Linked DNA regions of Homo sapiens. The protein of the gene in region 1 purifies or fractionates together with the protein of each later gene. This does not show direct contact. Each region holds a gene or a part of one and is shown on either strand. Other genes may lie near its edges. The genes, in order: WDR7 and DMXL2.

The links.
Region 2: the proteins of WDR7 (region 1) and DMXL2 purify together in Homo sapiens (affinity purification with western blotting; 2 studies listed by BioGRID and IntAct, with this or other methods). This does not show direct contact.

Annotation. Positions count from the first base shown.
Region 1 is NC_000018.10:57,025,086-57,030,318, forward strand, and holds the end of WDR7 (WD repeat-containing protein 7), read left to right. Parts: intron 1-1,918; coding exon 1,919-2,122; 3' UTR 2,123-4,707; downstream 4,708-5,233.
Region 2 is NC_000015.10:51,493,521-51,500,819, forward strand, and holds part of DMXL2 (dmX-like protein 2), read right to left. Parts: intron 6,712-7,299; coding exon 5,032-6,711; intron 4,945-5,031; coding exon of another isoform or gene 4,859-4,944; exon of another isoform or gene 4,717-4,858; intron 1,615-4,716; coding exon 1,504-1,614; intron 1-1,503. UniProt on the Homo sapiens protein: May serve as a scaffold protein for MADD and RAB3GA on synaptic vesicles. Plays a role in the brain as a key controller of neuronal and endocrine homeostatic processes.

The DNA.
Region 1 (5,233 bases):
CATGTTTAGCTCTCAACCCATTTTTTGTTCCTGGCTAAATTTGAAGAGAGGAATTAAAAATAAGGAAGTGTCTGAGCATTATATGCCCCTTGCATTTTGAATTACCAGCAGAAGTCAAGCTTCATACATATATTCATAGAAAATCCATAAAGAATGAAAAATACCTTGTAGTTATTTATCAACTGAGAAATTAGATTTTTTCTAAAACACACTACGCCTGTTGATGCCAGTTAATGTTAACCAGCAATCTTCTGTGTCATTTGGATCTATCAAATTAAGCTCATCATCATTATTTATATTTTAACTATTTGGGAACATCCAAGAAAGCAATAAGGCATTGATTTTTATCTTCTGTGAAGTTTTTGGGAAAAGGAGAGAAGGAAGCAAAGAAACACGCTTCTGAAAGGGTGACAGTAAGGAACTGCCTGGCTGGAAACAGGAACCGAACTTTAACAGAAAGAGTTAACAATAACCATACATTTGGTTTTAAAATGTGACCTCGTACACTAGTGATTTTTTTTCACCTCTGTGTTGTGTTCAGCGCTATTATTAATGCAGGAAAATCAGTAACATTAGTCATCTTAAAAGGGTTATTACTCAAGATGATTTAAATTGTGAAAATGTCAGTGGAGCCTGCACACACTCTGCTAGAGATGCCATGATTTACGCCCTCTGACACCATCCTGCTGCTGAGAAGGGCTAGAAAAAGGAATGGCTTGTGTTTTGCACTGATCCACATGCAGGGGATGATGTCAGTGATAACGCATCTTAAATGTCCTAGGATTTGCCAGAGTTTCATGGATCAACCATTTGTAGATGTTGGATCATAATCTGCATGCTTCATGCAAATCTCTAGAATCTTACATCGAGATGGAGGTTATACTGGAGAGAAGCATTGGAAATGAAAATTAGTACAAAGAAAAAGTGTTATTTCCAAGGCTTCTTTCCAGATTTTCAGTATTCTTTCCATGTGATATTATAATAGCACACATAATGCTATTGAAGATATTTTAAGTAATATTTAGAATCTAAAGAAATCTTCAGACTCAGTTGCTTAGGAAACAGTTCACTTAGACAGCTACCATTCAGTATTTAGTACTTCAACCTGAATGCATAGTTGTTCATGATTCATAATTTCCATGTTGTTTTTCATTTATGTGGCTGGATTAAGAAAACCTAAAATTTAAATCCAGAAAAACTGCCAAAAAGCAGAAGTTATCAATTGATAAAAAGGTATTGTCAATAAAATATTAACAGCAGACTCTCCTTAGTATGATAGCAAAACAGTGAGGCACAGACATAGTGTTGAGATGAAATTGATTCTGGTTCTGCACTTTATAATAAGCAAGAGCTTTCCAGAAAGCGAGTTTTTAAAAAGCAAGTGAAGAGTGAAGGTATTAGTAGGTGGGAAATGGGGGTGGAAGGGAGTCTTGAGCTTTATTTGATCCAATTGTCACTCTATCTACTGCTTAACTTTGCTTCCTTTTCTTGAACTAATTACAAATCCCAAAACTTGTCTTCGCTGACTCATCCTTCAGGGAGTGAGTGCAGTTAGCATTGTGGTAAAGAACATGAAAGTCTTCAGTTTTAAATATCCACAATTTCCAAATATCTGTGTTGTCTAAATGAACCATTTTATTAAGAGGTATAATTTAGCCCTCTTCCTAAAGATCCATGGACTCTCCTTTTGTCAGGTTCTACCCCTATAAAATTCCTCTAGATTTCTGCATTTACCATAACAGCATCGGAACAATTCCAAGCACACTGAAAGGAACTTTTGAGAGGTTAAGAACAAGCTTAGGTGAAGGAGAATAACCATGATGGAGGGGAAAGTAGCCAGGAGAGATCGACCCAGTCTCTGTGATAGGGAAAGGGAGAGGGCTGTTCAAGTGACACATGTGCTCTCCTGTCCCTCCAGATGAACACGTCACTGCTGGGAAGCATCGGCATGCTGAACTCGGCACCTCAGCTGCGCTGCATTAAAACCTACCAGGTGCCCCCTGTGCAGCCCGCGTCCCCCGGCTCCCACAATGCCCTCAAGCTGGCCCGGCTCATCTGGACTTCCAACCGCAACGTCATCCTCATGGCCCATGACGGGAAGGAGCACCGCTTCATGGTCTAATGCTGCTGCCTGCCGCCGTGACTGCGTTTTAGTTCTCTAAATTATCCAAGCCGATGTTGCTCTGTCCTTCCTCACACCAGATTGTTCCCAGGGGCCTGCCCACCCCAGTGCCATCCAGTGGCACGGCCGGGTCTTGTCACTTGTGCATGCTTCTCAGGGGCAGAACCCGCTCGTGCCATCTGTCGATTCAGAGGCACGCACACATGCTCTGCAGGATGTGGCCATCCTGTCACCAGGTAGTTTTTCCCTGCCAGAGATGGCAGGGGAAAGCCAGTGGTTCCTGGGAACGCTCTTGTTGCTTGGTGCAACAGAAGCACAAAAATCAATAAACACTGTGATTGCACTCCCAGCCCAGATCAGCATTTTTAGCCATCTCAACCGCACCTCTGAAGTGCTGCTTGAATCTGGCCGTTCTGACACTGGGTGTTGAGGTCATGTGGCAGTCCTCACGATTGAAATTATTGCCCTTTGAATTACCTAAAATATTGTTTACCAAAAAGATTCTGTGTTTACATGTTCTTTTCTTCTGGTGATTGCTAGGAAATTACTCAATCCAATTTCCTAGGGTTTAGCTACCACCTTCTTTATCAACAGCTAACCAATTTGAGATTCATGATTAATTATGTACACAAAAATATTTTCCTTGTAGAAAATAGTTTTCCAGACACTTAGCCTTCTGAAGTGCTCATCTCTTGCTTAAATGATAGTCTATTTAGTAGTTTAAAATAAAAATAATCACTCCCTATGATCTAGTTAATGTAATTATCCAGTCACTGTAACTAATCTCTTGAAGGGACTTTTGTGATAAAGAGCCAAGTTCAGAAGCATAGCGTGTACCGAAAATGAAGACTCTCCTATCTACTGCTACAGATCCTGTTGAAGAAAGAGCTTACCCCTTTCCCCCGGAAAACTTGCAATCCTGTAGTTCCCATATGTGTGGCATATGTCAGTTATGAAATTATTATAATTCAGCCTTCAAACTACTACTGATCAACTAAAGGAAAGCTAATAAGGTATTTCTTTTAAACAAGTATTCTGGAAAAGTAATAACTATGGCACAAATGTTCAGGAGTGTATATAAAAATATGTGGGCTCTCGATTTATTTGAGCAAACATTGCAATGAGGGTGTTCATTATGCTTCTAAGTAAGCTTTAACTAGACCACTTTCTTCTTATGTCAGATTGTGCTGGTTCTAGCTCATAATAATGAAAAAAATAGAATTATATTTTGTATGAATTGTTTCTAACAAACCTTGATCTGTATATACTTGTGAGGGGTTGTTTGGTTGCCTAATTGTTGATTGGTTGGTTAGTTGGGCAAAATCATTTATTACATGCAAAAATAGAAAATTATTTGTTAAATTCAGAGAAAATATGTGAAGTTTACAAAGGAACCAAAATGATAATGGGAGAATTTAGTCTTAAAAGTTTAGGTTGTCAGAGTTTATCTGATATACAAAAAAGTAGGATCAAAGTCTAGGAACAAACATTGGTTATTTCACTGAAACAGATTTTTAAAGAGCATATTAAGAAATTAAGACCATTAGATCATCTCTTTCATAATGATATGATGTTATTTCCATTGACGGCAAATCTATACTGTTCCTTGGTTTTAGAGTTGGGTATTCTTTCAAAAGTGAATTTAGGCACATGCATGTACATTGTATTTATAAAGATTATATATGTAGTTTCCAAGGAAGAAACAAAGACCTATACAGTTTAGACTTTATTTGTTTGGTGAACGTGCTGTTGTGTTTGGCATAGCTAGAGAAATGTAAGGTAAAAGGCTCACTTTGTTTTCCAGTGGGTCCAGAGTCTTCTCTATACCCAACATATGTTTACTTTATGAACTTAAATGGAAATTAATTTATTGTAGACTACATCTCTATTTGGAATGATGAGGTAAATGTATACCTTAGCATTTTCTTTAACAAAAATGTTCTGTGTGTCAGGAAAGAGGTGTGAGAGTGGTAGGCAGCCTGCCGCAAACACACGGATGGCTCCCCCCGCCACGAAGGTTGAGAACAAAGCCAGGGGGCCCAGAGGAGCAATAGCCCTGGGCCACAAGCGTGGGTAGGCCTTTCACGTATTCCGTCTGCACAGGCAACCAAGGCCAGTAGAAAGCTATGGCTGCAAAACCCTGGGGTGGACGATGTTTGATGATTAGACGGTCATCTCTAACTACTAAACTAATATCTGCATTCTTGTTAACATAAATCTCTCCTTGGCTATTTTAATAGCCACAGTCCCAAACTTCATCCCAGCTTAGATTTCTCAGCACTGAGGTAAACTCTGCATTGTCATCCCAGCGTACACCTTTAATGTTTTATTGATTTCACTGGCACTGTATTTGGACCTGTCCTTGTATATGTAGAGACATATGTGGCTTCATTGGTAATTTACAAGCAAAAGATGACATGACGTGACACCTGTATGAAAATGTGATGATTGAACTCCCTGTGTACAGCGAGTGAATTAAAATGTCTGCCTCTCCAGACATTTCTTAATGATTCCACTTAATAGACTCTATGTGTGCTGAATGTTCCTGTGTACATATGTGTGTTAAATAAAACAATTGTATTGAAGACTGTTTTTCTCACAATATTACCTTTTCCAGTGTTCACTCATCTTAAACATCCTCAGTTGAAATCCGTATGCTCCGCTAGCCCTGCTGCTTCTAATCATTCATTTCCCTGGAGAGCTGGCTTGGGAAAGGCAACTTATTCCCAGAGGACAGTAGAGCAGAAGTGCAGAGGTAAGCTCTCCCTCCAGAAACTCACTGGCACTCTCTGTGGTTTGGGAAAGGCGTTGCATGCCTGTTGCTTTATCTCTACTCTACATGCTCCCAAATAGACTGGTAATGGCACCAAATCATATCTTGTCAGATTGGATGGCATGGGTTGGCTGCCTCTCGGGAGCTAGGCTGAGATCATCAAGTTCATTGCATTTCACGCTCAGTTTGGAGTCGAATTTGAATCCCTCAGGTAAAGGGTATAATTGGTTTTCAGAAAAATCAAGAATAATAAAATAGGTCCTTACTGCTCATAGAGGGTTATGTGTAAGTAGTGAATGTACTTCTTGTCTCTTAATTATTTCAGATAAGAACACAAA
Region 2 (7,299 bases), on another chromosome or scaffold:
GCTATTCTCTGCAGTTTACCTCTGCTCTTGCTCTTCTCAGCTTTTCTATCTATGTACTGGCTACTTAACTTTTCCCTGAAAACTGCTCCCAGGACCAACACCTACAACACCAGTCACTTCTCATCGCCAATGTTTTAACTGCAGTCAAAGGGAAAATGGAATTTGACACAGCTTTAGAAATTTGAAGTGTTTTAGACTGCCCTAGGAAATGTACAAAATTGTCATTAACTGATTCAATACCACTTGACTATCACCCAAAACTAAAACTTAAGAGAACGTGGAGATACCATTTTAAAAACCTATCCAAATGGCATAGATTGCTTAAAATGTTAATATCAAATGTGGGCAATGGGGTTGAGATTTGGCATCATCAAACTTCTTTTTTATTTTATATTTTTTATAATTTTTTGTTTTCAATTTTTGTTGGTACGTAGTACGTGTATACAAACTTCTGGGAATGTAAATGAGCACATTTCTGAAGGGCATTTTGGTAATACTTATCAAGACTGAAGAATTTTCATGCCTTTTGATTCAGTAATTCCACTGCTGGAAAACTAGCATGAGGAAATAATCAGGAATGCAAATATTTACATGCCAAGGTACAAGGTTATTCATTAGAGTGATAATTCAAATAGAAAAAATACCTCAGCAAAATCTATTTCAAAAACAAAGGATTGGGCAGATGAAATATAGTTTAGACACAGAATCTCAGATAGCTATTTATAGTTATGTTTTCAAAGAACATTCATAGGTTAAAGGGTAAGTGCCATGGGTAAGAATAACAGTGTATCAAGCCTAGTGTTCTAGGTTCTATAATACTAAGACGTATATTATGGGACTCTTTCCAAGATGTTGGTTTCAAAAGAAATATAGTCCACTGAAATAAGCTCTGGACTGGGATTCGCACTCCCAACTCTTCTAATAAATAGTCCTGTATCCTGGGCAGGTCACTTTTAATTCTATAGTTTCAATTTTTTAATCTGTAATACGAAGGCTGATATAAATCCTTATGTCTCAAATCAGGTGTAGCAGTATGCCTGAAGTACACAAATCCACTGTTATCAATATGGCAGATCTTCCTGAATCATCAACTTTACTTGCTGGCAAATAACTAGAACATAATGCTTACATTAAAGTAAATATAAAAACACATCGCAGAGCAAAGTTTACATAATTTTTCAAAGAAAAGACATCAAGATATTCAGGGCTACTCTGTAGACAGCCACTTTGGGTTACAACCTCAGGCATACCACATTTACCCCCTAAGCTACTACTCTAGTAAATAAATTCTAAAAAACTTAGTTAGATGAGCAAAAGTCACAGAATAGAGCTGAAGGATACATAGAAAAATGGTAAGTGGGTACTATGTGACAGAAAGATCTTAAGCCAAGTGATAGGTGTGCACGTAATGACTTACCTAATGTTTACACACAAACATGATACACCCCATCGCTCCAATATTAAGTAAAAGTTGTGCAAAGCTTCAAACAGTGAGTGAATTACCTTGATGAAGTAGCTGCACTCGGTATAAAGGAGGCAGCGATGTCAAAAGGCATGTGTGTAGGCGCATAGCTAACAAGTATCTCAAACCACACTCATCTAATGTATCTCTTCCTGTAATTTAAACAGGAAATATGTTTAAGGAAAAAAGAATGCAAGAGGCCACAAACTGATAAGCTATAAAACAAACATTAAACTTAGTCATAATTTATATAAAATACATAAGTTTTAGTGTATTCCTTCCTGAACACTTTAACGTCTTTACAAAAAATTATCTTTACAAAAAAAAATGTGACTACTAAACTCTTAAAAGAAAAATGATTTGGAGAAATACAATTAACTATTAGAATAGATAACAAGAACATTTATATTGACTCATAATAAATGAAAGACATCTGGAAATCCAATAAAAAATATATTAACTATGGTAAGTTAGGTACAACTTTTAATAATATTTTCTACATGAATTCCGATGAGATGTAATGGAAATTACATAACTGATGTGAAATCATTTGTTATATATTTAAGCAGGTAGTATTTTCTACTTTGGTTAAATTAACTGAAATATGGTACTATCAAAGATTTAAAATTTGAATACCCAGGCTAGTTAGTGTTACATGGTTAGTTTGAACCTTCACCTTGATTCTACAAATTTATTTATACAAATTAATTCCACTTAGTCAAAGTATGAAGGTATGGCAAGCGTAACCAAAACTATAGCCACTGCTGGATAAAAGCAAAGCAAAAATACAGACAGCACCTAGCCCAATAACTGACACTTTGGAAGTACTCAATGATTATAGAATCAAATAGTATTTTCCAGAAAAAAAAAAACAAAAACTTTTAAATTGCCAAAGATCAAGCCCCAGCTCTGCTTCCCATTACCTATATCCATCCATCCATCTATTTATTTAGCTAGATAGATAGCTATTAGGTTGGTGCAAAAGTATTTACAGTTTTGCCATTACTTTTGCACCAACCTAATATGTATCTATTTATTTATTTATGGACATGAGATCTCACTATGTTGCCCAAGATGGTCTAAAAGTCCTGGCCTCAAGCAATCCTCCTACCTTAACCTCCCAAAGTGCTGCCATTACAGGTGTGAGCCACCATGCTCATTCGTCCGTTTATTCATTCAACAAATCAAGCATCTATTACATGTGAGGGACTCTTCAGGTACTGGGAATTCAGCAGTGAATAAGGCAAAGTCCCTACTCTCTTGGGGATCATATTTTAGGAGGTAGAGACAAACAATAAACAAATAATATGTGGAAATTAATGCTATGAAGGGAAATAAAGCAGGACTGAGAGATAGGGAATGCTGGAGTAAGAGAGTTCTATTTCATACAGTGTGGCCAGGAAGGAACTCTCCAATAAGATGACATGCCAGCAGCAATTTGAGGAAGTAAAGGAACAAGCCATGCATGAATCTGGAAGAAGAGCATTCTAATAGAGTAGAAATGAGCATAGATCGTGTGGGGCCTTTTAGGCCACTGTAAGGCTCTTAACTTTTATTCTAAAGTGAGACAGGAAGGCACCAGTATATGTTGAGCAAAGGAGAGATTTAATGTGATTTGGTTTTAAAAGAATCACTGGTTCCTAAGCAAAGAACAGATGGAGGTAAAAAGAATAAAGCAGTTAGGAGATGACAGGGACTTGGACCAGAGTAGTAACTGCAGAGGTAATGAGAATTGATTATTGGATTCTGGATATTAATAGAACTGATAGCATTTGCCAATGAACTGGATACTGGGTATGAGAGAAAGCAGAGTCAAGAATGACTGTAAGTTGTCTCACCTGAACAAATGGAAGAACTCATTTACTTAGAATCCATTTACTGAGATGTGTAACTCATTTAATCTCTGAGCTTCAGTTTCCCACCTGTGAAATGGAGACATTCATTCCTGCCTTATTACCTCATGAATGTCCACTGTGTCCAGGATACACTATTTCTATATTGCTTAGCCAATGATACAGTTTTGTATTAGAAAGTATAAACTATTTTTTACAAATCATGCCATGCCTACTTTCTTAATGTCCCACAGTAAAAACTAATATATATTAAACACACAACACAAGCTTAAGGTTGTTCTGGGAAGAATCTCATTCAACTGCATACAACCTCATAATGGTTAAGATTTTTCTTTTCCAATTAATAGTGAGAAAATAAGTCATAGGCAAAACCCTAGAAGGTCTCTAGTTATTTTAACCTGCAGAGAAGAAAACTTTGGGGGATATACTATAAGGATGTAAATCTATATGAAGAGATATTTTCCAGCTACCTTTCCCCCACAGATCTGGAAATCATGAAATAGTTAAAAGGGTACAGGCTTTGAGTCAACAGTTTATCCACATATGAACTCCACTTCTACTCCTTAATGCCTATGTGATCTCAGATGAGTCCCTTAATTTCTTAAGGATCAGTGTCTTCATCTATAAAGTTAAACATAATAATAGCTATCTGCTAGAAGACTGTGATAATTAAATATGATAAAGTAAAGAAAGTGCCTGAAACATAGCAATTTTTCACTCCTCCAAAATATTTATTGAATTAATGAAATTCTGATCATTAATTTTCAGTTTCCTTTGCCAATGCCATCATTTACAATCAACACCATTACCCTGAACTATGTGCATAAAAGAGAATGGAATCTAGTTCCAGGAAGCAGCCAAAAATTTTCTAGTTACAGAATGAATTAGGCAAAATACGTATGACATTAACTGTATGGAAATCTCGCTGAAGAGACTTTTTGGAGAAAATTAGGTAATTGTAAAAAGTTGTTTATGGCTAGAAATGGGAAGACCAACAAGTTGAGCCCATGAGGTCCCAATAAGCCTCATGATTCCATAGTAACATTAACAAATGGGCTGTTATTATCAAAGAAAAAATCATAGGGATCAATCTGTGTTAAAAAACAAGAGACTTGGCCAGTCCATGGTGACTCATACCTATAATCCCAGCACTGTGGGAGGCCAAGGCAGGAGGACTGCTTGAGCTCAGGAATTCGAGACTAGCTGGGGCAACATAAGGAGACCTAGTCCCTACAAAAAAAATAAAAAGAAATTAGCTGGGCCCCATGGTGGTGCACACCTGTGGTCCCGGCTATTCAGGAGGCTGAGATAGGAAGATTACTTGAACCTGAGAGGTTAAGGCTACAGTGACCCATGACTGCACCGCTCAACTCCAGCTTGGGCAACAGAGCAAGACCCTGTCTCAAAAAAACAAACAAAAAACCCACCCAAACACACACAAAAAAACAAGATTATAAATCCAAAATGACACAAAGGTTTCAGTGTAAAAACTCATGAGAGAATGCACATGGATCTCACAAATCCATGCATTCATATGCCGGCCTCAACCGTCTTTTCTAACTGAGCATATTATATAATAGTAATTACCTATTAAGGAGGTCTTTTCCCTGCAAAGTTTGAAAGTTGAGACTGCAATTCAGTAAATGAGTCAGTATAGAGATAATACAAATATTTCTATTAGGTACAACTTTATAAATTTTTAGCGAGAATATTTACCTGAGCAACTCTTATCTCTGCTTTCATCAAGCTCAGTACTAGTAGTAGCCACTGTATCAGCCAAAGCTACAAGGAACATCTGCTCCAAACGGGTAAGGCCTGGTAGACTTGAGTGCATAAGATGACTTGAAAGTACCCTTGCATGTTCTTGGCCAAAGTAAGCTGGTCCATATTGAGAAAGATTTATTACTTTTGATTTGTTTTCTCTCTTTTCAGGCTCTAAATCAATATCATCCGTTGGTATATCCTGGATTTGAAACAGCTCTGAATACTGATCCTCTGGTTGACTTACTGTCTGATCTTCATAGCTCTGTGGTATCTTTGTACTTTCTTCTGAAATTCTGTAGGATGTATCTTGATCTGCAGCAAGTAATGCATATAGTGGTAGTGGAGGGATAGAATCTATCTCAGTATAATCTCGAGTACCATCTTTTCCTACGGTGACTGTTTCCTTTGCTGTACTGCCACTTACACTAATAGTTCGAGAGAGATGTCGCTTAGTTCCTTCTCCAGCATCAGGATCTCTAACTATTGCTACTTCACCTGCAATACATTTTACTAAATGAGAGAGAATGGCTTTAGCCCTTCGCACTTTCCCTAAATCCATCAATTCTAACAGCTGAGTTGGATGATATTGTGGAAGAGTAGGGGAAAGTACATGTGCAGCCTCAAATAAGCCACCATCTTGAATTACAGTTGGTGAACAAAAAACATCATCAGAAATAGCTGTTCCTTCAACAACACTTTTTCTTGCCAGCATATTAGATTTAAAGGTCGAATGATCTTGCATTGCTGCCTCTTCTGCATTAGAACTATCAGCTTCAGTGTCTCCAAATTTGACAGCATGCTTCCACTGTGCATATACATGCATTTCACAATCCATTCCTACCACCAATATCCCATCTCTTACCCAAGAGAGAGAAACAGGCAGTGAAGGAGTACCATCAACAGAAGATACCAAGTCTATAGATCTAAGAAGAACCCATCTTGACTTAACTCCTTGCTTGATACTACCACCTAGTGGTAAAGTGATGACAGCTACTCCATCCTTACTGTTGGTTTGCTCAGTCACAATTCCTGAAAGCCTTCCATACATGAAGATATTCGCACCGACTCCCACTGTAAGAATGTGGGAGCCATCTTCTTTTGATACCCAGTCCAAATGTACTAAATGTTTGATATTCGGAATAAGATATCTATCCTTGCTCAAGAGTGCATCTGACTTGCTATACACAAACAGATTACTGTCGACGCTGACCCTTGAATCAAGTACACTCCCAACCTTAACCAAATCATCAAGATGAATTGTTTGTTCTAAAACCCACTCTGATCCTCCTGTAGATTCACATTCAAATATACAAACATGCATGGAAAATTCTTTAGAAACAAAACCATTATGGTGGATAGGCTGCTTATAAGCCACTGCAAGGCGACCTGTGTATGAACAGCTAACAGCAACTGGTCTTCCCACAATGCTCACTGTACTGCTATTATCTTCTCCTTCATCATTCATCAAAGGCCATCTCTTCCAATGATAAATTTCTTTCTCATCACTTTTATTACACTCTGGGTTGGCTTCCATACAACATTTCCAGAAGCGTACTTTATTGTCAGAACAAGTTGTAACCACTAAATAAGGTGCAAGGCACACTGGATAAATTGAAGAAGAACTCAGATGGCCTTAAAAAAGAAAAAGCAAATAGTTAGTTGTAATAATAATAAAGCCACAAAATAATATGGTAGTAATCAAATTCTGGAATGTGATCAATTTAAAGTCACTATGAGCTTCTTCAGAATATCTCTGCAGTCTTCCTCTTAACTAGTATCCCACTAAATGTCCATTGGCCAACATATCTATAAAGGTCTTGAAGAGCCCATCAGTGAAATCAAGGTATGCAATAATAATCACTTAATTTGTTTTTAGGTAATTAAGTTTAAATGAGGCAACCATTTAATTAAAATAAAACTCAAAAGCACTGAAACAAGTCAGCCCTTAATGTGTTTCTATTATTTATATTTACCTTCACAACATGCCTCCTTAGAATTTCATACTATATATTTAATCATTTTCATCATGAATACTTAACTGAGCTTTACAATTTGCCTTTCAAATGCCCCTAACCTTCTCTCAAATAATCCAGACCCCAGGTGGTACACCAAATTTTGTTTCAGACCGCAAAACAGACCAATAGATCTTACCCATTTTACCAAGTTTAATTCATCCTCTCTTAGCACTGAACCAGAACCCTCTTATCTATTCCTGACTGC